Homo sapiens: one gene and its partners. The protein of the gene in region 2 interacts with the protein of the main gene of each other region in a pairwise test. Each region holds a gene or a part of one and is shown on either strand. Other genes may lie near its edges.

What was found. The genes of interacting proteins can lie anywhere in the genome.
Region 1: the proteins of DYRK3 (region 2) and ACAA2 interact in a two-hybrid assay, tested with the Homo sapiens proteins (one study listed by BioGRID).
Region 3: the proteins of DYRK3 (region 2) and PGM1 interact in a two-hybrid assay, tested with the Homo sapiens proteins (one study listed by BioGRID).

Annotation. Positions count from the first base shown.
Region 1 is NC_000018.10:49,782,454-49,790,109, forward strand, and holds part of ACAA2 (3-ketoacyl-CoA thiolase, mitochondrial), read right to left. Parts: intron 4,909-7,656; coding exon 4,838-4,908; intron 2,899-4,837; coding exon 2,744-2,898; intron 1,479-2,743; coding exon 1,394-1,478; 3' UTR 1-1,393. UniProt on the Homo sapiens protein: In the production of energy from fats, this is one of the enzymes that catalyzes the last step of the mitochondrial beta-oxidation pathway, an aerobic process breaking down fatty acids into acetyl-CoA.
Region 2 is NC_000001.11:206,645,040-206,653,012, forward strand, and holds part of DYRK3 (dual specificity tyrosine-phosphorylation-regulated kinase 3), read left to right. Parts: intron 1-2,348; coding exon 2,349-3,926; 3' UTR 3,927-7,973. UniProt on the Homo sapiens protein: Dual-specificity protein kinase that promotes disassembly of several types of membraneless organelles during mitosis, such as stress granules, nuclear speckles and pericentriolar material.
Region 3 is NC_000001.11:63,630,835-63,638,490, reverse strand, and holds part of PGM1 (phosphoglucomutase-1), read right to left. Parts: intron 6,835-7,656; coding exon 6,709-6,834; intron 3,663-6,708; coding exon 3,472-3,662; intron 2,258-3,471; coding exon 2,103-2,257; intron 1-2,102. UniProt on the Homo sapiens protein: Catalyzes the reversible isomerization of alpha-D-glucose 1-phosphate to alpha-D-glucose 6-phosphate. The mechanism proceeds via the intermediate compound alpha-D-glucose 1,6-bisphosphate.

The sequences.
Region 1 (7,656 bases), on a different chromosome or scaffold from region 2:
ATTTAACATCTAGTATTATTTAACATCTATTATTCAGTGAGCCATGACTGTGCCACTGCAATTCTGCCTGGGTGACAGAGCAAGATGCTATCTCAAAAAAAAAAAAAAAAGGCCGGGTGCAGTGGCTCACGCCTGTAATCCCAGCACTTCTTTGGGAGGCCGAGGCGGGTGGATCACGAGGTCAGGAGATCGAGACCATCCTGGCTAACACGGTGAAACCCCATCTCTACTAAAAATACAAAAAATTAGCCGGGCGTAGTGGCAGGCGCCTGTAGTCCCAGCTACTGGGGAGGCTGAGGCAGGAGAATGGCATGAACCCAGGAGGCGGAGCTTGCAGTAAGCTGAGATCGCGCCACTGCACTCCAGCCTGGAGGACAGAGCGAGACTCTGTCTCAAAAAAAAAAAAAAAAATTTCCCCCCAATAAATGTATAACCCATAAATTCAATTTAATCTTAATTAAAATTTCCAGTGGCTCTTTGATGAAGTTAACAAGAATAGGGCCTTGCCCTACTAGATATCCAGTCTTAGAACAGACAAATAAAGCAATGGAAGTGTTGTGGGGGCATTTTAAAGGGAGAAAATAAAGGATGAAAGATGGCCTTTAAGCTGGGAAGAAGGAAGTAAGGTTTATACACACAGCAGAATATTATTCAGCCTTTAAAAAGAAGGAAATTCTGACACATGCTACACCATAAGGTGGATGAATCTTGAGAACATTATATAAAGTAAAGTAAAATAAGCCAGTCACGAAAGGACAGATATTTATAATTTCACTTATGAGGTACCTCGAGTCATCAAATTTATAGAAACAAAATACACTGGTGGTTGTCAGGGGATGGGGGATGGGAGAATCAGGAGTTATTGTTTCCATGTGTGGTGACTGAAAAAGTTCTGTTGATAAAAAGTGGGGATGTTTGTATAAAAATGTGAATGTACTTAATACCAGTGAATTGTACGCTAAAAAAGGGTTAAGATGGTAAAGTTTATGTAATGTGTATCTTATCACAATTTAAAATTTTTAAAAATATAAATGACAGGAAAATATTAACTGAAGTTAAGGCAACATTTATTTGATTTCCTTATAATCATATTATCTAAGGCAGAAGTGGTGGTTACTTGGCAAGAATACGATTTCTTTTAATGTCTTCTATAGTTGAGTTTTAGCTCAGAAATACATCATATTTCACTGGTTCAAATCTGAGAGAATGTACTTCTAGCATGGGCTCCTATTCATGATCAATGCATTTTTGTGTCACCATGGCTTGATCAAACTTAATCACTGTTTCAATGGCAGGGCATGGCCAGTTGTGGCAGCTGCTCTGAAGGTCACTTGTTTTACTGTGGCCTGGCCAAGTAGAGTAAGGATGGGTCACAGTGAGCTCACTGGTCTCTTCAGGCTGTGCTCTGAATGATGACAGCAATACCTTGGCCACCTCCAATGCAAGCTGATCCAACGGCATATTTTCCACCTCGACGCCTGAAAAAGAAAGCAGTGACTGAAATCTACTCTAATAAAAAATCAGATTAATGAAATAGAACTAATAACATCACATCTGCATTACTCATCCTTATTCAGCTCATCTGCTCAATCTTTTCCCCAGTCCTCAATTTTGGTATAATTACAACAGGCAACAGACTTTGGAAAGCTGAAAGTTTTTAATCAAAAAAAACAAAAAACAAAGAACAAAAACAAACACCAGAAGAGGGAGGCAAACTAAAAAGGAGATGAGTGGATTTAGGGTTATAGAGTAGATTTAGGGTATATGAAACACATACAGAAGCTTGTGTGTGTTACGGGAAAGGAGTGAGAAGAGGAGGTAACTGGATAAATGGGAAGCTGGGGAAGGGGATGAACATTAAGCTCCTTTGATTTATATATTTGATTTATATAGTGTGAGAGCCTCATGGCACCTTAGAAGAAATGTAATTAATAAAGTTTGTCCCTATGAAAGGGCAGATAATTTAGAAACTATCCATGTCCCTTTCATAAAAATTAGACTCTTTTAAAGTACTCCTCACTCCTAATATGATGACTTCGAGAAAATTATCCAGGAATTACTTTTGTATGTGGCAATCACCTATTTCAACTCAGGGAATCATTAAGTGAAATAAGAGTCACATTTCCCCTGGCCTAACAGGGAGTCAGAGTAATTTTTCAGCCTGACTTACTTGGTTTTGTTTGCAATTTTTCTACAGAGCAAAATATTCCAAAAATAGAAGAGCTCCTCCTTCTGGTACTATCTATCAAAACTGAAAAGCACCAAACACCCAAAAGGTTCCTCCTGGAACCCTGCAAGCAGTGAAAAGAAAAACTTAGACCCAAATGTCAGTTTGCTTAGATTTCATAAATTATGGCATCTAGATCAGTACTCACTCAGTACTTTTTTTTTCTAAAATAGATTTATTTTACTCCTGTAACTGGCACTAAAATACAAGTGCCATGAGAAGCAGGGCCTCATTATCTGCTCATGCAGTGAACACAAGCTGAGTGGGGCACACAGTGCACAGAGACTGGACACACAGAGGAAGAGCTTGGTTCTTAAGTGCAAAGCCACTAACAAGGTGACTGACTCATCTATGAGACCAGATGAAAAGCACTGCCCAAGTAACTTGTTCCTGGTAACAGCCAGTGCAGGAGACATGAAGAAGAATGAAAAATGTTGGAGTGTTCTGGGGAAGCCTAAATCCATGCATTTCTATAAAAAACAGCAAATCTGAAATGCAGCTATTTCTAGCAAATACCTTAATTCGTGAACCAGGTGTGCAGTAATTCTTGATCCAGATCCTCCCAGTGGGTGACCCAAAGCAATGGCTCCTCCATTCACATTGGTTTTACTTATGTCAAGATCCAAACTCCTCTCAACAGCCAAGTACTGGGGAGCAAAAGCTTCATTCACCTTAAAACAAAAATTAGAGCACTAACAAAAATCCTTACTCACAAACTAATTTTTAAATGAGAATGGTCCAGTCCTATCAACAGCTAAGTCTGCTGTTTCTTCCTATTTAAATTACCTCGCAAAGTTATTTTATCTACAATCATTCTGCATAAAGCTATCAGGTTTAAAATGTGTATATTTACTAAATAATACTTTTAGTCAAATGCATCCCTTAGAGGCAATTCTCAGTAATCCCATAAATTGACACATACCAGACACAGTGGGATACTGTAGAAAGCCCACAGGTTTTAGAACTGGATGGATGGTTCAAATATTGGCTATACCATTTGTTAGGGTGTGACCTTATGCATATTCTTTAAACTCTTTAAATTCACGTTTCCGCGTGTGAAAATGTGACTGTGGTATCATGCTAAGAGTCACTGTCACAGTTAGATAAAATCATGAGTATTAAGTGTCCAGTGTGTTACCTGAAACATGGCAAGTACTCAATAAGTGGTTGCAAGTATTATTATTATTATGCAGTACTAGGAGCTATCCTTCCAAGAAGCTGACACACAACAAAGAATAAACCTTCAAAGCCACGTACATAAAGGGAACAGTTACTATGTTGAAATGTGGCAGAACTGAAAAGTATATTATGTTATACTTACACAAACTGGCAATTACCTTACTTCAAGTTTACAGTACTGTATTATCATATGATCTTAATTCAGGAATTTTATAGATAAGGAAACTCATTCTAAGAAAGGTAACTTTTGCAGAGTTGGGATAAAATTCAGTCTTGTGCTCTTTCCTACTATACTTTGTGGTCTCTCAAGATGGTGCCTCATATGTGCTTAGATCCACCATTATCTTTCTACTCTATATACAGAGCCATCTTCAAGGAGGTACTAAGAGACCTAGAATAGGTAGTGAAACTAGGCTTTTGAACCTAGGAAAACTATGGTCTGAGTTATGTCCTTGAGAATGTATACATTTCCAAATGATTATGAACAACTTCCCAAAGTTGATATAGTTTAATAGTTTTAAATGTGAGGTCTAAAGTGAGAAATTTAGTGGTACCTATTTGCTGACACAAATATAATAAATTAAACAGCCTCTTTGAGGCTCTGAACTGTGATCTGCTAAAAGTGGAAGAGATTTAAAGATAAACCATTTGTCTGAAATCATGGTTTCCTGTGTGAGAGATTATCATAGAGGAAATCACACCTGTGCCTACCCCTTCGCTATCAAGTTAAATAGATTTCCTTTGTTCTATTAGTTATTTCCCAATGCCAGGCATCACATGCTTAATCACCTAAAATTTTCAAATAAATATTCCAAAAGTGTGGAATGTATATAACCATCTTTAAATGTTTCTCCACCTCTTCTTTTAATTATGCTTAAGACACTTTAGTTCTAATACTAACATTTAAAAAGAAATCACTCAATAAATTTAAGTTCCAGTGTCAAAAATTATGATAGGTGCATCCCAAATCAAGCTACAACTATCGTATAAAAGCCAAAGATACATTTAAGGGAGGGGGCTCTATCTGGCGAGAAGGGCAAGAAACTTGTAGATTTGGCACTAAATATTGCTTTTCTATTATGTCAATTATTTTACATATATTTTTTCACTTTAATATTCAACAGGCATGTTAATAGTCTAAAATGTAACAGTTTTATAAAGTAGTAAGAAATTCCCAGGAATTTATACTTGAGTAAGAGAAATCAGGCAGTTTGAATATTCAAATATAAATAAAGCATGTTAACCAGGTGGGGAAAAGTATCAACACAAGGCATCTAATGAAGGTACTATTTATTTAGATGTACATCATTTGGAAAGGCTAACTACAATGAAATTCAAAGAGCAATGAGACCAAATTAAAGTCATTTATGCTATAAAAGTACATGGTTTATTCATGTTGTTAAAAAAAAAAAAAAAAAAAAAAACACTTACCTCTACCAAATCCATGTCCTTAAGACTCAGTCCTGCTTTCTTCAGTGCCCCACTGATAGCAGGGACAGGACCTATATAATAATAAAAATCTTCTATAAAAATATAGAAATAAATGTCATCTTATATTTACGTATCAAGCTTCTCCTTCTTTCCAAGTAAGGAAGAAATAATGCGGCAGTTATTAGTAGCCACAAATCTTACTACCTTGACCGTACCTATTAAATGAAGTGACCATAAAGAGGCAGAAAAAGGGCCCAGGCATGGTGGCTCATGCCTGTAATCTCAGTACTTTGGGAGGCTGAAGTGGGAGGATCACTTTAGCCTCCTGGGCAACACAGCAAGACCCCATCTCTAAAAAAGAAAAAAAATAATAATAAAAATAAAATGGAACCAAGGTGAAAAGTTGTTTATACATTCAAACTGCAGATAAGAGAATTACATGAAAAGTTCTACCATAAACGGCTTTAAGATTGAAAACAGCCAAAGGAGTCCATATATGGGATTTTAGTTATGTTAATAGATTATAATTGATATCAAAGAGCAAGGCAGACTGAGTGCTCTACTTGGGATCCAAGCCATATGCATTCACAGCACAGAAGTTACTGTGGCTACACTCTGAATTTTCAGGCCCATTTGGATAAAAGACAAGAAATAGCAGTATCTCCACATGGGCACAGAGAGATGGGAAACTACGAGGCACTTCAGGGAAGGTTTTATGAAGTAAGGTGATGTTTACAACTCCAAGGGTAGGCAGGAAATTTAAATAAAACATAACTCCTAATTTAAGAAATGCAACTCCATCTAATAAGACTTCTGAAATAAACTTTAGCTCCCAGATTTCTGATGATGTAATGAGAGTTTAATATTGCTCATAATTTAAATCCATATTTTTTCTCAAAAGGTAAAAAATTTGGGTAGAGAAGATTATCTACTTCTCGACTTGTTCTTAAAGAATGAAACTGCCAAAAATGTCTACAAAGAAAAATATGTAGTATGTTCTGCTGAATTCAAGTAGTCAAATATTCTGCATCAAGTTTCACAAGCATTTTACCTTATAAAATGGAAAATCAGTCTTTACAAGAAAGGCATAATGAAACCTAAATATAATATTTATTTTGTCACGTAGTTAAAATACTCTTTGGACAACAAACCACGTGCTTATTGATTAGGACTATCCAGTTAATGCACTTCAATTTAAAATGCCAGTTTCATGTGGCTACTGATTTACTACAGCTACTGATTTACTACAGGATCTGATTCCAGATTCTCTTTGTATGTCTAAAGCATGAAATCATGAAAATGAGATGGGTAGTCAGTAGTAAAGCATCAGTTATCCAGCCTGGTGAGGGGATGAAGTAGCCAACAGTGGTGACAGACACATAAAAGGTGGACAATGTTCAGACCACTGTACACACTTCCTTGTCTGCATAAACAACACAGCAAGCATGACTCGTACTTTCACTTTAACTCAGAATCCACCGTAACAATATGCTAGGCCATAACTCGATTTTTAAAGGACTCTTCCCAGACCACTGTTATTTACTGGGACTTCAGGAAGGTTTAGTATTCTTGTTAGGAAAAGGAGACCTTATTTCTAGTCCTGGTTCCTGTCACTAATAGCTGTGCGACTTTGTGCATCTCTCTGGGCAACAAGCTACTCATCAATAGCACTCTGAATGGGTTTTCCACCTTTTTCTCTTTAAGCATCAGAATTCTTTTTGCATATGATGCCAAGTAATAGATAATGCCAGACTGCTCCAGCTGAAGAGGCTCAAAGTTCCACCCACCAACCTCTACCATTGCCACCCCTGAGGAGTTCCAGGGAGTGCTGTCTTTCTATAGCTGTGTATTTCCTCAGAACCAGTACTATTCTTTTCAAGTCATGGCTTTCCCCGTTTTTTTTTGGTCTGCAGCTATTCTGCAGGGCTAAGGATTGCTAGTCATTAGGTAATCATGGAACTGAGAACCACTATTCTTGTAAGTTAGATTAACAAACCAGTTCCCACTAGATACTTAATAACTTATTCTCCCCACTTATTCATCTGGGATGCTTCAACGAGTTACTTTGTTTAATCCCATCACTATATACAAGTGACAGCCAAACTTCTAGATGAAGGGGGCAGCTGATACTGTGGGACATCTGGAATGTACAGCTCTGTTCAAGCCCCGAGGAAAAATGACAATCCTACCACAGGAGCATTCTTTGTACTTTAGGGCAAATATTCAGGCCCAGGAACAGAAGGAAGGAAAACAACGCTTTCTTGGTTCACTGGCTATGCTAATCTACCAGAACCTATTAAATAAAGTTAAACTGAAAAAGGAGTATAAAATAGCCAACCCATGTCACATACATTTGTTTGATCATCAAAAGCATCTAGGTGTATGCAGGAAAAAAACCAACTCTGCTCTTGGGCTGGGCATGGTGGCTCACGCCTGTAATCCTAGCACTTTGGGAGGCTGAGGTGGGCGGATCACCTGAGGTCAGTAGTTTGAGATCAGCCTGGCCAACGTGGAAAAACCCTGTCTCTGCTAAAAATACAAAAATTAGCCAGGCGTGGGGGCGGGCACCTGTAATCCCAGCTACTGGGAAGAATGAGGTTGCAGTGAGCTGAGATCACGCCACTGCACTCCAGCCTGGGTGACAAAGCGAGACTCTGTGTCAAAAACAAAAAACAAAACCAACTCTGCTCTTGGGCTCCACTCTGGACTTACTGAAACAAAATCTAAGGGTGTGGGGGTTATGAGTGGATTCTGACAATCATCTGAGGTTGGGAACCACTACCCTAGATATCAAAATAATAAATGCCATAACAACATAC
Region 2 (7,973 bases):
TATAAATATTTAAATTGATTAAATGACTTTTAAAAAGGAGCAAGCAGGACTTTTATAACTGAATTACGGGGGCTGTCTGAGGTATGCCAACACTTAAATTTTTGTCATTTATGTTTTTTAATATTGTTTTTTGTTATTTATTTTTGGTAATTTATAAATACAATTTTTGTTTTGCTTAGGTTATATTAAAATTTCTAGTTTTTAAAGGTTTGACTACTTTTTAGCTTACATTTTTAGAGATTATAACTGTAGCCCAGAGCTCCTCCGGAATTAATCTGTTCCTCTTACTACAGGCTCTCTGAAATTATCAAACAGATAAAGGACATAATTCTTCAGGGTCCATTGAGAAAAACAGTTGTTCTTTTAAGTATCCTAGACTTCCTTTTATTTATCCTAGACTTCCTTTTATTTTTAAGAACAGATTTAACATTTTTATCTTTCCAGCCCCTTCTTAGTATTTTTCACTTATTTCTTTTTTTATTTTATTTTTTTGAGACAGTCTCTCACTCTGTTGCCAAGGCTGGAATGCAGTAGCGTGATCTTGGCTCACTGTAGCCTCCACTTCCCAGGTTCAAGCGATTCTCCTGCCTCAGCCTCCCAAGTAGCTGGGATTACAGGCATGCATCCATGCATCACATCTGGCTTTTTTTTTTTTTTTTGTATTTTTAGTAGAGGTGGGGTTTTGCCATGTTGGCCAGCCTGGTCTCAAACTTCTGGCCTCAAGTGATCTGCCCGTCTTGGCCTCCCAAAGTTCTGGGGTTACAGGGATGAACCACCATACCTGGCCAAAGTTTTTATTTTATTTTTTATTTTATTGATTTATTTTTTTGAGACGGAGTCTCACTCTGTCGCTCAGGCTGGAGTGCAGTGGCATGATTTGGCTCACTGCAACCTCCACCTCCTGGGTTCAAGCAATTCTCCTGCCTCAGCCTCCCAAGTAACTGGGATTACAGGTGTGCACCATCATGCCCAGCTAATTTTTGTATTTTTAGTAGAGACAGAGTTTCACCATGTTGGCCAAGCTGGTATCGAACTTCTAACCTCAAGTGATCCACCTGCCTTGGCCTCCCAGAGTGCTGGGATTACAGGCGTGAGACACCACACGTGGCCAAAAAATTTTATTTTTTAAGGTGTCCAGTATGATGTTTTGATACACATAGTGAAATGGTTACTACAGTCAAGCCAATTAAATGTATCTATCATCTCACATAGTTACCCTTTTTTTGTAATAGTAATTAATTAATATTAATTTTACTTAGGTGTTTGGTTGTTTTTGTCCTTCTTTTCCTCCATCTTATTTCAAAAAACCTTGTTTCAGTTCAAAGAATCTTAATTCAGAGGTGTAAGTAGAGCTTTTTTCTGTGGGTCAGTATCCCTTCCAGGAGAAGATTGTGGAAAACCTGGTGAAAGGAGTAGTACTCCTTTATCAAGTAGGCTCTTGCTAGGGAAGAGTTTTATAAGTACCCCAGGGACCTTGGACCCTCACTGTTATCAGGTACTTGAAGAATTGGTCCAGATGATCTCAAAAGTTCTCTTTAACTTAGAGCTTTTGTGATTCAATGAACTGAGTTAAAAGGCTACAGTAATTTATATGGGGACCTGGGAGTAGATGATTGAGCACGTTGTTGATTCCAGGCCATAGTCAACATTCAGCCCTGCTAGTCTACAGGTGCTGGGAGAACCTGGTGCTGAGTTATGTTAATGGCAAGGGCCCTTGAATAGGAGCCAGAAGACCTATTCTGGTTCAAATTCTGCTTCTGTCACTTGATAGTACCTTCTTGTTTACACTTCAGTATGCATTATTTTCATCATGCTATATGTCCTTAATATTTGGGAAGATACTTGAAACAATTAGTAAACAGTGTAAGGTAGTGCATATATTATACATAATCAAGTACCAAATTATGTGGCACAAACTGGAGAAGCTGCAGTTAGGATATAAGATTAATTAGTATGGGCTTGGCATAGTTCTAAGTGGAAGAGAGAGGAATTAAACTGGGCTTTGAAGGAATGTAGGAGTCGAGGGGATGAGGGGGTGGAAGGATTCTCAGTACAAGGACACATCTGTAAGAAGGAACCTGGCATGTGGGGGGCATGGTAAGATCATCTTGTCTTGAACAAAGCAAGGCATGTATGGGGGTTAGGGATGGCCGCAATATTCAGGGAGTCTGAAAATTAATATAACACAAGTTGCTAGAGACTCTTGCTTTTCTTATCTTCTTTTTGGGTCATTTTAACCTTAAAGTAAACATGACTGGACATGTTTTGTTGTTATTCAGTTGGAGGAGGGAGGATTCTTCCATCTTTCTAATGTTTTTAATGACTTATATTCATTTTCTCTTTCATAGATGACCACTGAGCAGTTTACAGGAGATCATACTCAGCACTTTTTGGATGGAGGTGAGATGAAGGTAGAACAGCTGTTTCAAGAATTTGGCAACAGAAAATCCAATACTATTCAGTCAGATGGCATCAGTGACTCTGAAAAATGCTCTCCTACTGTTTCTCAGGGTAAAAGTTCAGATTGCTTGAATACAGTAAAATCCAACAGTTCATCCAAGGCACCCAAAGTGGTGCCTCTGACTCCAGAACAAGCCCTGAAGCAATATAAACACCACCTCACTGCCTATGAGAAACTGGAAATAATTAATTATCCAGAAATTTACTTTGTAGGTCCAAATGCCAAGAAAAGACATGGAGTTATTGGTGGTCCCAATAATGGAGGGTATGATGATGCAGATGGGGCCTATATTCATGTACCTCGAGACCATCTAGCTTATCGATATGAGGTGCTGAAAATTATTGGCAAGGGGAGTTTTGGGCAGGTGGCCAGGGTCTATGATCACAAACTTCGACAGTACGTGGCCCTAAAAATGGTGCGCAATGAGAAGCGCTTTCATCGTCAAGCAGCTGAGGAGATCCGGATTTTGGAGCATCTTAAGAAACAGGATAAAACTGGTAGTATGAACGTTATCCACATGCTGGAAAGTTTCACATTCCGGAACCATGTTTGCATGGCCTTTGAATTGCTGAGCATAGACCTTTATGAGCTGATTAAAAAAAATAAGTTTCAGGGTTTTAGCGTCCAGTTGGTACGCAAGTTTGCCCAGTCCATCTTGCAATCTTTGGATGCCCTCCACAAAAATAAGATTATTCACTGCGATCTGAAGCCAGAAAACATTCTCCTGAAACACCACGGGCGCAGTTCAACCAAGGTCATTGACTTTGGGTCCAGCTGTTTCGAGTACCAGAAGCTCTACACATATATCCAGTCTCGGTTCTACAGAGCTCCAGAAATCATCTTAGGAAGCCGCTACAGCACACCAATTGACATATGGAGTTTTGGCTGCATCCTTGCAGAACTTTTAACAGGACAGCCTCTCTTCCCTGGAGAGGATGAAGGAGACCAGTTGGCCTGCATGATGGAGCTTCTAGGGATGCCACCACCAAAACTTCTGGAGCAATCCAAACGTGCCAAGTACTTTATTAATTCCAAGGGCATACCCCGCTACTGCTCTGTGACTACCCAGGCAGATGGGAGGGTTGTGCTTGTGGGGGGTCGCTCACGTAGGGGTAAAAAGCGGGGTCCCCCAGGCAGCAAAGACTGGGGGACAGCACTGAAAGGGTGTGATGACTACTTGTTTATAGAGTTCTTGAAAAGGTGTCTTCACTGGGACCCCTCTGCCCGCTTGACCCCAGCTCAAGCATTAAGACACCCTTGGATTAGCAAGTCTGTCCCCAGACCTCTCACCACCATAGACAAGGTGTCAGGGAAACGGGTAGTTAATCCTGCAAGTGCTTTCCAGGGATTGGGTTCTAAGCTGCCTCCAGTTGTTGGAATAGCCAATAAGCTTAAAGCTAACTTAATGTCAGAAACCAATGGTAGTATACCCCTATGCAGTGTATTGCCAAAACTGATTAGCTAGTGGACAGAGATATGCCCAGAGATGCATATGTGTATATTTTTATGATCTTACAAACCTGCAAATGGAAAAAATGCAAGCCCATTGGTGGATGTTTTTGTTAGAGTAGACTTTTTTTAAACAAGACAAAACATTTTTATATGATTATAAAAGAATTCTTCAAGGGCTAATTACCTAACCAGCTTGTATTGGCCATCTGGAATATGCATTAAATGACTTTTTATAGGTCAATGCATCTTTGTTATTATCGTCAGATGTATTTCAACTGATGTATTATACTATTGGTTTAAATCTCTTTCTCTCAAGATAGAAGGTGTAGCAAAAGTATCCCAACTACTCCTCGCTTCTAGTGTCCCTCGGCATCTGTTCTGGAGGGGTAATTTGGGATGTGGTGTTAGTTGTGGCTGAGAGCCAGTGCTAGGTCCCTTGCCCCACTAGGCCATTCTCTAGGCTCATTCTAGGTGAAAGAGCTCACAGCAGACTGTGGGGTGGGGGAGCACCAGGAAGCTGTTGGTGACCTGGACAACTGGTGTCCCTGGTTTTCAGTGACTCGCTCCTCTTCCCTTCAGTTCTCTGATGTTTGGTGTTATTATTTTATGTTGTTATTTTGCCTCTGATTTGTTTCCTAGTCACTCAAAGCATTTTACAGAAGCCTTACCACTTTACTAAATAACCCTGTAAGGTACTGATTTAAAAACTGAGTCATATGCATCCCTCCTCCTTTCCTCTCCCATGCCCAAGGAAGATAAAACAGCTTCTCTGCCACAATTGACCCAGAGTGGTAAAGATAGAGAATCAGCATGAAAACTGCAGTTCCCCAGCTTTGTGGTACTCCACGGACCAGCCTCCTTGCTGCATTTTCATAGAATCTCTTCCTTATAAAAGTAATCACTCTCGGATAAACCTTACTACAGTTTAAAAATGCTTCCCTCTTCTCTTTACAGCTACCTGCCACTTCAATGTGCCACATTTTTCCCCCCACTTTCACGTTAAGCTTAATGCTATTCCCTAGATCTGAGTGAACTTCAGTTAGAAGAAGAAAACTAAAAATCCAGAAACTGGTGATAATCAAGTTTTCCCTTTTTATGTTTCTTAATTTTATTCTCTTCAACAGCTTTTCTTTTTCTCTGCTAAGATTTAAACAGTGAGGGCTGATAATAAAACTAATTGTTAAGCCAGTGTCCTACTTACAAGGGTGGAGACGGGACAGAAGCTAACTCACTGCTACTGGGTTTTGTTTGTTGTTTCCTGTCCCTTGCTCTATTTCTGTCCTCTTCCAGAACAAAAGTATGCTCAAGTTCTATCCTAAATGTGTGCTCTTGGCTGGGTATTAGTGGCTCATGCCTGTAATCCCAGCACTTTGGGAGGCTGAGGTGGGTGGATTCCTTGAGCCCAGGAGTTCAAGACCAGCCTGGGCAACATGGTGAAACCCTGCCTCTACAAAAAATACAAAAATTAGCCAGGCCTAGTGGCACATGCCTGTAATCCCAGCTACTTGGGAGGCTGAGGTGGGAGGATCACTTGAGCTGAGATCATGCCACTGCACTCCAGCCTAGGCAACAGAGTGAGACTCTGTCTAAAAAACAAACCAAAAAAAGTGTGTTCTTTAAAGTAGAATATTTGCTTTTTACAATATAGTTCTCAGAATGATCCAGTTCCATTTATTATTCTAGAATGTGGTGCAAACTCAATGACATTGGAAGAGACTCTTTTTGTTGGGCAGTGTAGGAACAAGAAAAGAAAATAAAAATGCCATGAGTATATTATTTAAGGAACTTTTGTTTTATCCAAAAGTAGTCATGATTGCTGTAGCATAGGCTGTGAAAAATGAGAGAGTGCAAATCTCTCTCATTTAAATGTCCACAGTGGCTTTAGTCTCCCAAGTACAAGGGCCAGATGGCAGAGAACAGCTTAAACTGAGCCTTCAGCCTCATTAATAGGAGGAAGTCTTGGTACTTTTGGTGACTAAGAAACTGGATTATTTAAAACCTTAATTATCTCCTTTACTCCTGGTTTACAGAAGGCAATAAATATACAACTCCTTTAGATCCCTCTAACTCCTGCTGAATTTTCTTTCTTTTTTTCTAAGTCTGCATCCTATCTCTTGATTCCATTGCCTGAAGAAGCTGTGTGAAATTAGTCTGGTTATTGGTTTTCTTGTCTGATAGTGGCATCTTGATCTCTTCAGATGTCACACTAAATGCTGCTCATAACCCATCCTCCTCTTCTTTATTCATCACTGCCTTCTTCAAGGGAGGTCTTGAAACTGCCTCATCTACCTCATGATCTGCTAGTCGAGATAGTGACTCTTTGGAAGTTGGTAGTCCAATGTCTGCTTCCCCGCATTAACCACATTGCGTAGGTTTGGGAATTTTGCAGGTGCTAAATCATCATGGCCAGGAAGATGAAACACCTTGAGAAATGGGAACATCTCTTCACTGTGTTCTTGGATCAGCCTTCTTTCAACTACCAAGAAATGGATGATTTCTCTGCCAACTCCAGGAAGTAGTACAGCATGATTGAATCCTTCTTCAGTGAATCTTTTCATTGTAACTTAGGGTGTAAAAGCTCATATCTACTCAAAAAACTCAAATCTACTCTTTCAGTAGATATGAGCTTACATTGACTTATGAATGGTTTTCCTGTAGGCCCAACAGTGTCATGACCCTCCAGTTGAAACAAAGCATGAGTTATTTTTATATCGAGTCCTTGAACTGCTAGCCAGGTAGATGTTTCCTTGAAGTCCAGAGCAGGATCCAAGTCAGATGAAGGAGGTGGCACACCTGGCTTAACTGCAGATCAGGGAGCATTGAACCTCTACAATTTGCTGCATTGGATTTCTGCATGGGTTTCTCACTGAATAGTAAATTAGAGAAAATGCTACTTTTACTATTTTGCATTTTATATCAACATTAGCAGCCTGTTCCCACTCAGGTGCTGTCCAAGGCACATGTTTCCTTGGGATGTTTGGACAGAATGATCTGGCTTGATGTATTTCTTGGGCTCTGGTACCACATCATAGAGTTGGTTAAATGTAGCCAGCAGCAGTGTCAAGACAGCTGACACTGTCTTCCAAGAGTGAATGCATTGGCCTTTGGAACTGCTGCTAAAGCCATGTGTGGGGTGGCGAGCACATCTTTAGGTGGCAGCAAGGCTATATCTGATTGACACAGATCTGAAGTCTCTAACACCATATTGCTGTTGTCCTGAATTTTCTAACTTGGAGAAATTTAAGGATCTCCTGCATTATCTAGGCAGAGCATATGTTGAGGTTGTTTTGCCAGTTGTTATCAGTGTTGAAGAACTGCTCCTGTAAGCAAACTGTTAAAAGCATTACTACCCCATATGCATCTGATGTACACTGTGTTTTGGTGTTTGTGTTTTTAGTGAGAGTTCTAGCCAGTACTGTGCCTGAACTTGGGAGAGAAAGGGGCCTGTGGCTGAGGTTGGTGCGTGCTCTATTTCTGTGTATCGAATGGACTACAAGGTTACTGAAACTGGGCTAAGGGAAAGTGTATAGACAACTCATTACACTGTAGACAGATTTTAGAAAGCTACAGGAAGGCAAATGGATGTTTCTGCCTCAATTTGGCAACCGAGAGAGTGATGCAGAGCAGAGTCATTGAAGTTGGCATACCTGTCTTCTGCAGGCCAATTCAAGTTTGAGGAGAGTGGGCTGCTTAAAAACATGGTGCTCGTCCACATGGATTTGAGGAAGTTTATGGTTGGGTTTCAAGCTTAGGGACAAGTTGTGGTTTTTAGAGGCAGTAACTCTATGCCACCTTATTGGCCACTGTTAAAAGTTTCACTTGGATCCCTGCCCAGCCATAGCAATGAGTGACTGAATTGGATCAGAGTTAGTACAGAAATTCAGACTGTCTCTTCCTCAGTTACTGGATTGTTCTTTAGCCATTTTTCTTCTAGTCATTTCAGTCAAACTGGTTAGGTTAGGTGACTTACTGAGTTCTAAATTGACAAATTTTAATTTCCAAGTTGTTTCTGACACGGTGAGAGTTGGGTTAGAATTTTTATTTCATTCCCCAAGTCATT
Region 3 (7,656 bases), about 140 Mb from region 2:
AAGGCGGAAGAAGAAAGAATTAATTCAGATCATGGAGTTTAATATTTTAGAAGAAGCATCCGTAGTAAAATGTTCAGGGCTGCTGTTTAAGCTATTTAAATCCACATTTTGGATACAGACTGCATCTATAATCAATCTATAAAGAAGAGAAGAATGATGTTTTGATGCACCTGTAATCACAGAATCATGACATACTGGGTCTGGGCAGTTAGCATTTTACAGAGAAGGAAACAGGGCCCAGAATGTTATGTGATCAGACAAAGGTCACAAAGCCAGGATGACCGACCGCCCAGTATTCAGCTCTCTGGTCAGTGCTGCTTTTGTCTCATCAGAAGTCTCCCCAGGGGAAACGCCCAGTGGGGTCTCCCCTAAGTACTGGCTTCACCCACACTGATTAGTGGTTCCCCTTCCCTTCTAACACGTCTTTTATTTCTCTCTAGGTATCTTTAAACTATTTAAAACCTCTGAGTGACTTAAAAAAAAATTCCTTTCCCTTTGAACATGAAAAGTTACCTGATAAGTTCCATTCACTGTTTGAGCGAGATTTGCTTCCCAGAATGTTTGCCTTATTTCCAGGAAAGCAATGTCAGCTTTGCATTCTGATATTTGAGGAAAAATCAAATCTATGATTTTGAAAACTATGAAAGTACAATAAACTTTTATCTGGGTAATGAGGTACTTCAATTGTGATTCTATATGTGGATTATCAATTTTTCCAAAAATTGGAATTACACTGTTCTTGGATGACATAGAAGGTATTCCAGGACCTGACAGGCCTAACATATGATAGTGTGACCTCAAACCAGCTCATAATTTCAAATGCAGGACCTGATGGTAGACGTGCTGGGCTCAAATGCTAGCTCTAATTTGGTGGTGAGATCTTGGACAAGACTGCTAACTTCCCTGACTTTCCATTTCCTCTTCCTTAAAATGAGGTCTGCTGTGAGGATCAATTGAGATGGTGAATGTAAAAAAACACTATACAAACTACAAACCACTATATGGATATTAGTGGCTATTTTCTTGTTAGCTGAAGCAAAGTCAGCACCAATTCTATAACCATCTCCCCTCTACAGAAAACAACTGCATGGCCCAGTGAGTGGGAGCAAAGGCTCTGGGTTCAAATCCTGAGTCAGCCATTTACCAGCTGGGTGACCTCAGGTAAGTTACTTCTTCGTCCTTTGGTTTTCCCACCAGAAAAATGGTGTTAAATACAGCATTTACCTCATGGGGTTCATCTGAGAAGTAAATGAATTAAAACATGCAAAATATTTAGTGTCTACAACAAAGTAATGTTCAATAAATATCAGCTATTATTATAAGAGCCTAGAGATATATTACAGCCTACTTTCCTCCCTGGCCTTGACCTTTTATTCATTCATTCATTCTTTACCTTTTATTCATCAAACATTTCCTGCACACCTGACATATTCTAACTAATGTTTTCCCTGGTCCTCATCTGTTATGACTTTCATTTTTCAACTTTTTAAGTGTGATCTAACAAGCCACCTCAAAGCCTTTGTACAATGAAGTGATATATAAACATTCACTGTGTTTGTGTGGGCAAGAGCGATCCAGTCGTTGAAACTCTAAAATTACTTCAAACTGCTCTTTCACCCACACTCTGTGCACACTGCAAAAGAAAAGTGATCCTCCAGAATGATGTCTTGAGTACTTCCATTGTTATTCATTAACACTCAACTATTCATTAACTTTAAAAAATTATACGTGTATGTGTGTGTGTGTGTTTGTCCTACTATGTGCCAGGCACGCTATGGTCAGGCAGAGTCCAGATGGTGAACAAAACAGTCCTTTCTCTGCAGAAGTATACAGTCTAGCAGGGCAGCCCATCAAGAAAACAGCTACTAGAACACAGTGTGGTAAGTGCCAGGAGGAGGAGGCCCAGGGTGCCAAGGGAGTGCGGAGAGGGGCATTGAATCCAGAAAAAGCCAACCATCCCCTCACACAAGAATCGCTCAGCACACTCTATGCATCAGATGCCCATGCTGAAAGGGAAGGACACGTGTTCCAGGCACAGTGAAGGGTATGGTGAAGACTGGGACGACCTAAGACAGGAAGGCCAAGGGAATGGAGACACCTACCGGTCCAGAGCACCACTCGTGGGCATGCTCCGTGCAAAGCCGCGGACCCCAGTCTGCTGGAAATACGGAATGCTGAAGATGTTGGCAGCAATGACAGCCACAGAGTCTGAAGGGTTCACAAAGAACCCATGCTTGCCCAGAATCATGTTTCGATCCTTGGGGAGAAGAGAGGATCAAAGAAAGACCTTTTAATCAAACTATAAGAAATCAAACTATCTTTCATGGGGGTTTTATAAAATGTAAAACTATAAAATTTGAAATTGATCTCCTTTCCATACTGCATTTTTAACACTGGGTTTTATTTTCAATGAGTTTATACAGTACCATTGGGCCGAAGGCACCTCCATGCCAAAAAGTTAAAACTGTTTTCAATTAAAGTCCAAGCACAACCTCCTTTTGAGCTGAGTCCTCTGTTCTCCCTCCAGAGGCCAGCTAACTTTAACCTCCTAGACTTTTTTCAGACTCTGGAACCAATCATCTTTTTCCCAGGGGAGGGGAAAATGCAATGAGAGAAGAAATATTGGCTGTTTACATAGTTTGGTAGGTCTACTGGGTAAACTGTGTACCACAGTCTGTGTACCACAGTAACTGGGAGGGTGGCCAAAAAACACTCCCAGAATGCACTCATCACAAAGATGTACTACAGAATAATGTCTGCTGGAACCCCTTTAATTTCCCAACATTTTGATAAGGGAAAAATCATTTTTCAGGAAACAGTGGATTCTAGCTAATGGTAACACTAGCAACAACAAAAATATATTTTCAACTAAGTAAATGTATACAGTGCCTACCATCAGTGAGATACCAGGGATATAAACCTAAGACACATCTCTTCCTTGTCTGGTACATAGTCACCCTTGTAAATAAAACAGCTTATTTCTAAACATTTTAATGGTAGAGAATGATTAAAATGTTAATTCTCTCAATATCATCTTCATATAGGCAATGAAATTACAGCTTCAATATTCAGCTCATGTGAATGAATGAATGGGTGTATTATAAGACCAAAATCTTGTCCAGAGATTAAATAAGTAGCCAGCTGCTGGTTGAGAGCAGAAACCCACCTTAAGACAGGCATCTAGAACTCACCCAGCTCAGGAAATACCAGTCATTCTATCATAATCAGAACCTAATCATCGTGCCATTGTTAGCAAGTATGGATGTCTGAAATTAAATGTGTGGGTTTCATTTCAATGACTCCTATTCCTGTTCAAGAGGGGCTTCTAATAATTTAGTTCTGACCTCGGGTCAGAATGAGGGATCCTTAACAGTTATTCCCTGGGTCTGGCAGAAGCAGCCCACTTTTTTCCCCATCTGCAGGATCAGGCCTGGCCTGCACCAGAGTTCACTTAAATGCACTTATACCCACCCCATCTCCATCAAAGGCAGCCCCAAAATCATGCTCTCCTGACTTCATGGTCTCCACCAGGTCAGCTGCATAGGTGAGGTTGGGGTCAGGGTGGTGGCCTCCAAAGTCCTCCAGAGGAACGCAGTTAACTGCCGAGTTCGCAGGGGCACCGAGTTCTTCACAGAGGATCTTCTTTACATACGGTCCCACAACTATATACAGCATGGAATAAATGTATGCAGAATCAGAAAATAAAACTCCTTAAAGTATGTGAGGATTCAGGGGTGAGGTGGATGCATTCTGGGGAGAAGAATGGCATGAGAAACAACAGGAATGTGTGAAATGTGTTCAGGGACTAGTGGAGAGATACGCCTGACTGGAGAAGAATGTTCTCTAAAAAGGAACAATGAGAGATTATGTTGGAAAAGGTGGGGCCAGTTCATGAAGGGCAGAGTGGGGAAAGGAAAGGAAACCAACCATTATAAAGGCCCTGCGGTATACCTGTGCTTTCCCATTCAGTCCTTCAGAAAAGCTCAGAAGGTTGTACAGCTTAGAGCTTAAGAGCCTGGACTCTGGAATCAGAGTGTCTGGGTTCAAATCCCAGCTCTGCCAGTCATTGGCTGTATAATAATTTTGGGAAAGTTATTTAAACTCTCTGTGCCTCAGTCTCTTCCATCTGCAAAATGAGGGTAGTAATGCTAACTACTTAACAGGATTGATGTAAGGATTAAATGAGTTAATAGCTATGAAGTACTGAGAATAGTACCTGGCAGATATGTTATAAATGTTTATATTATGATTATCACCTGCAGTTTACAGATACATTGGAATGTTGGTGTTCTGAGGTAAAGACATTTGCCCAAACTTACATGGCTAGGAAAAGTGGGAATTGGGATTCAGAGCTGTTATCTTTATATTATGACAAGCTAGCTGACAAACTGATTAAAAAAACACAAACAGGCCAGGTACGGTGGCTCACACCTGTAATTTCAGTACTTTGGGAGGCTGAGGCAGACAGATCACATGAGGTCAGGAGTTTGAGACCAGCCCAGCCAACATGGTGAGACCCTGTCTCTACTAAAAAAAAAAAAAAAAAAAAAAAAAAAAATATATATATATATACACACACACACACACACACACACACACACACACACACACACACACACACACAGAGACACAGACACACACATGCATACACAAAGATTTGCCAGGCCTGGTGGCGGGCGCCTGTAATCCCAGCTACTCAGGAGGCTGAGGCAGGAGAATCGCTTGAACTTCGGAGGCGGAGGTTACAGTGAGCTGAGATTGCACCACTGCACTCCAGCCTGGGCAACAGGGCAAGACTCCGTCTCAAAAAAAAAAGAAAATAAAAAACCCACCACCAAAAACAAACAACAGGAGAAGCCAGTTACATATGTTTACAGTGACATTTTATATAACTACCAAGAACACGCATCTCTGAAATGCTGAGAGAGTATTTTCATCAAGGATGGTACTAATCCCAATACAGTACATGCCCCAGAGGTCATAACACTGTAGAATAAATGTGTCCTATGAGGCATCACCTATTAAGCAGGTTACTGACACACCACAGAATGAGGTCAAGGCAGCCAGGGCTGTGAGGGATATAGAAACGAAAGCATTAGAGGAACAGCCAAAAGACCTGGAGAAAAGTAGTCTTCTTCCGGAGAAGCTCCTCTTACCCAATGCCCTCCTCACATGCCCCATTATCCAGCCAGCCCAGGCCTCTCGTTTCCCTAATGTGACATCCATTTTTAAGCCTTCATGCCTTTGCCACAGCCACCGACTCCATGAGAATGACCATTGCTTGATTTTTCATCACTCTAGATCTTTCTTTCATAAGAACTGAGTTGGATGCCACTTCTTCCAGGAAACCTTTCTTTATACCTAGTCAAATTATGCCTTCTTCCAACCCCAAAGAGAATACTTGAAATTCCAACTCTCATTTTGTTGGCCTGGCAGGAGTTAGTTTTTTAGGGATTTTTTGTTTTTTTGAGACGGAGTCTTGCTTTGTCGCCCAGGCTGGGGGGCAGTGGTGTGATCTCCGCTCACTACAACTTCCGCCTTCCGGATTCAAGCTAGTCTCCTGCCTCAGCCTCCTGAGTAGCTGCGATTACAGGCATGTGCCACCACACCCGACTAATTTTTTGTATTTTTATAGAGACTTTTATAGAGATGGGGTTTCACCATGTTGGTCAGGCTGGTCTTGAACTCCTGACCCCATGATCCACCTGCCTTGGCCTCTCAAAGTGTTGGGATTACAGGTGTGAGCCACCGCGCCCGACCCCGGGGTTAGTTTTTTACCCACTTCGTCTCCCCAAACATTGCACATTCTTTGAAGAAAGTAATCTGCCCAGTTCCTGCCTATTCCCCAGGCATGCATTTTGCAGGTATGCAATACACATCTGTTGAATGGTTTAAAATGACAGAATCGCTTTTGTCTGAGTAAGGAAGTAGATCCATTCTATGGGAGTCCAGAGGCCAGCTAGGACCCAAGGGGAGAAGTTTCAAGGATGGAAGGTTTTAGTTCACCAGCAGAAGACTTTCTGTGGTTTGCAGTGTCACAGGAATCCCCGAATTGCATCACTAAAAGGGTTCAGTTGCAGGCAGAAAGGCTTCTCCAACCAGGCAGATGTATGTGTATAGGTTTCAGGGATTCTCATATACCTACATGTCTGAGAAAACCCTCGTGGTTCTGGTTCACAGTGATAGCTGCCCTCTCTATGGACCTGACCACACAACCCACGGAGGAAGAAGAGAGGGCTGTACACATCATGTTGCTCCTGAATTTAATCCTCAGCTTGCTCTTGCCCTCTTCTAAGAAAACGAGCATTTGGGGGCAGGTGAGTGGGGGTGTGGGGCTCAGGAGTATGTTTATCACATCTCCCAAATGACCGTCCTCTCAGAAATACATGGGGGCATGCAGCAAGAATGTAAGGTATCTTCTGAGGGGGAGGGAGAGTCCACAACAGCAGTTGCATGTTACTCAGAACCTGATGCTTAAGGTGGAAACACTGACCTTCACACGAGCTTACCACGAGGAGTGTCTCTACTATTTTTGCTACATACAATTAGATTTTTATCTGTGTGAATATTGCTCTGGTTGCAAAATAACTCTATTTAAAAACCATCAGAGAGACTTGAGAAAAGGCTTGTTGAAGCATCATGATACACACAGAAGAGGGCAACTTCCTATCCTCAAGAGATGGGAATTGAAAAGAAATGATTGTATACCTCCATGCATAGCATCAATACGGATCTTCAGTCGGTTTGGCCCAGAAAGTAGTTCTTTCAGTGCACTGAAATCAAAGATGCTTCTCAGCATTGTAGCATAAGCTTCTACCGAATCCACAATTTCCACTGTGAGAACAAGCAACATCAAAAGATGGAAGGATTAAACACATTTAGAAATATTATATTCTGATGTGACTATATTGCTGTAAACCTGCTATTGCTATTTTAAAAGGACAATTATTGAACAGCTCCAATAATACGGCTGTTAAGTGATATCCGATACTATCTAATACTACCAATCCTTACCCAATACTAACAATTTTCCTGAGAGGTAAATGTTATTAGTCCTATTTGATAGATGAGGAAACTCGACGTGTGAAGGGTTAAGAAACTTGCCCACACAGCTTGGATGAGGCACACAGGGGATTTTCAACAGAGGTTGTATAAATTCTGCTATGCCACCACAGTGCTTCCCCATTCGTCATCTTGAGAGGTGTGTTTTGGTGTTATAGAGAGTAGAAAATGTAATCCCCACTTTTCTTTCCTTTTCTTTTTCCAAGTCCATTGTCATCAAGACTTAATGGTACTAAGTGGAAAATGAAATTTTTTAATGAATCACTTTTCACAGGTACTGCTTAAGGAATAAAACAAAAATAAAACTTATATAAATATAAGAACTTAGTATTGTTGTTCTTGTTGGATGTTCAAGGCTTCTGAACATTTTCAAAACTGCTGGATATTCAGGGGTTCTGAACATTTTCAAAATATGAAGAATTTAAGAAACTCCCTACTGGAATCTTCTGAACCTCAAGAATGTCTTCGAGATGACCAAAGTGTCACTTTATCTTTGTTAGGATGCAATTGTCAGCTCTCCCTGAGTAGGTTCAAACAAAAAAATGCAATCCATCCTTTAGCCAGGAACTAAATGACTAATAAAATGCATTCCAT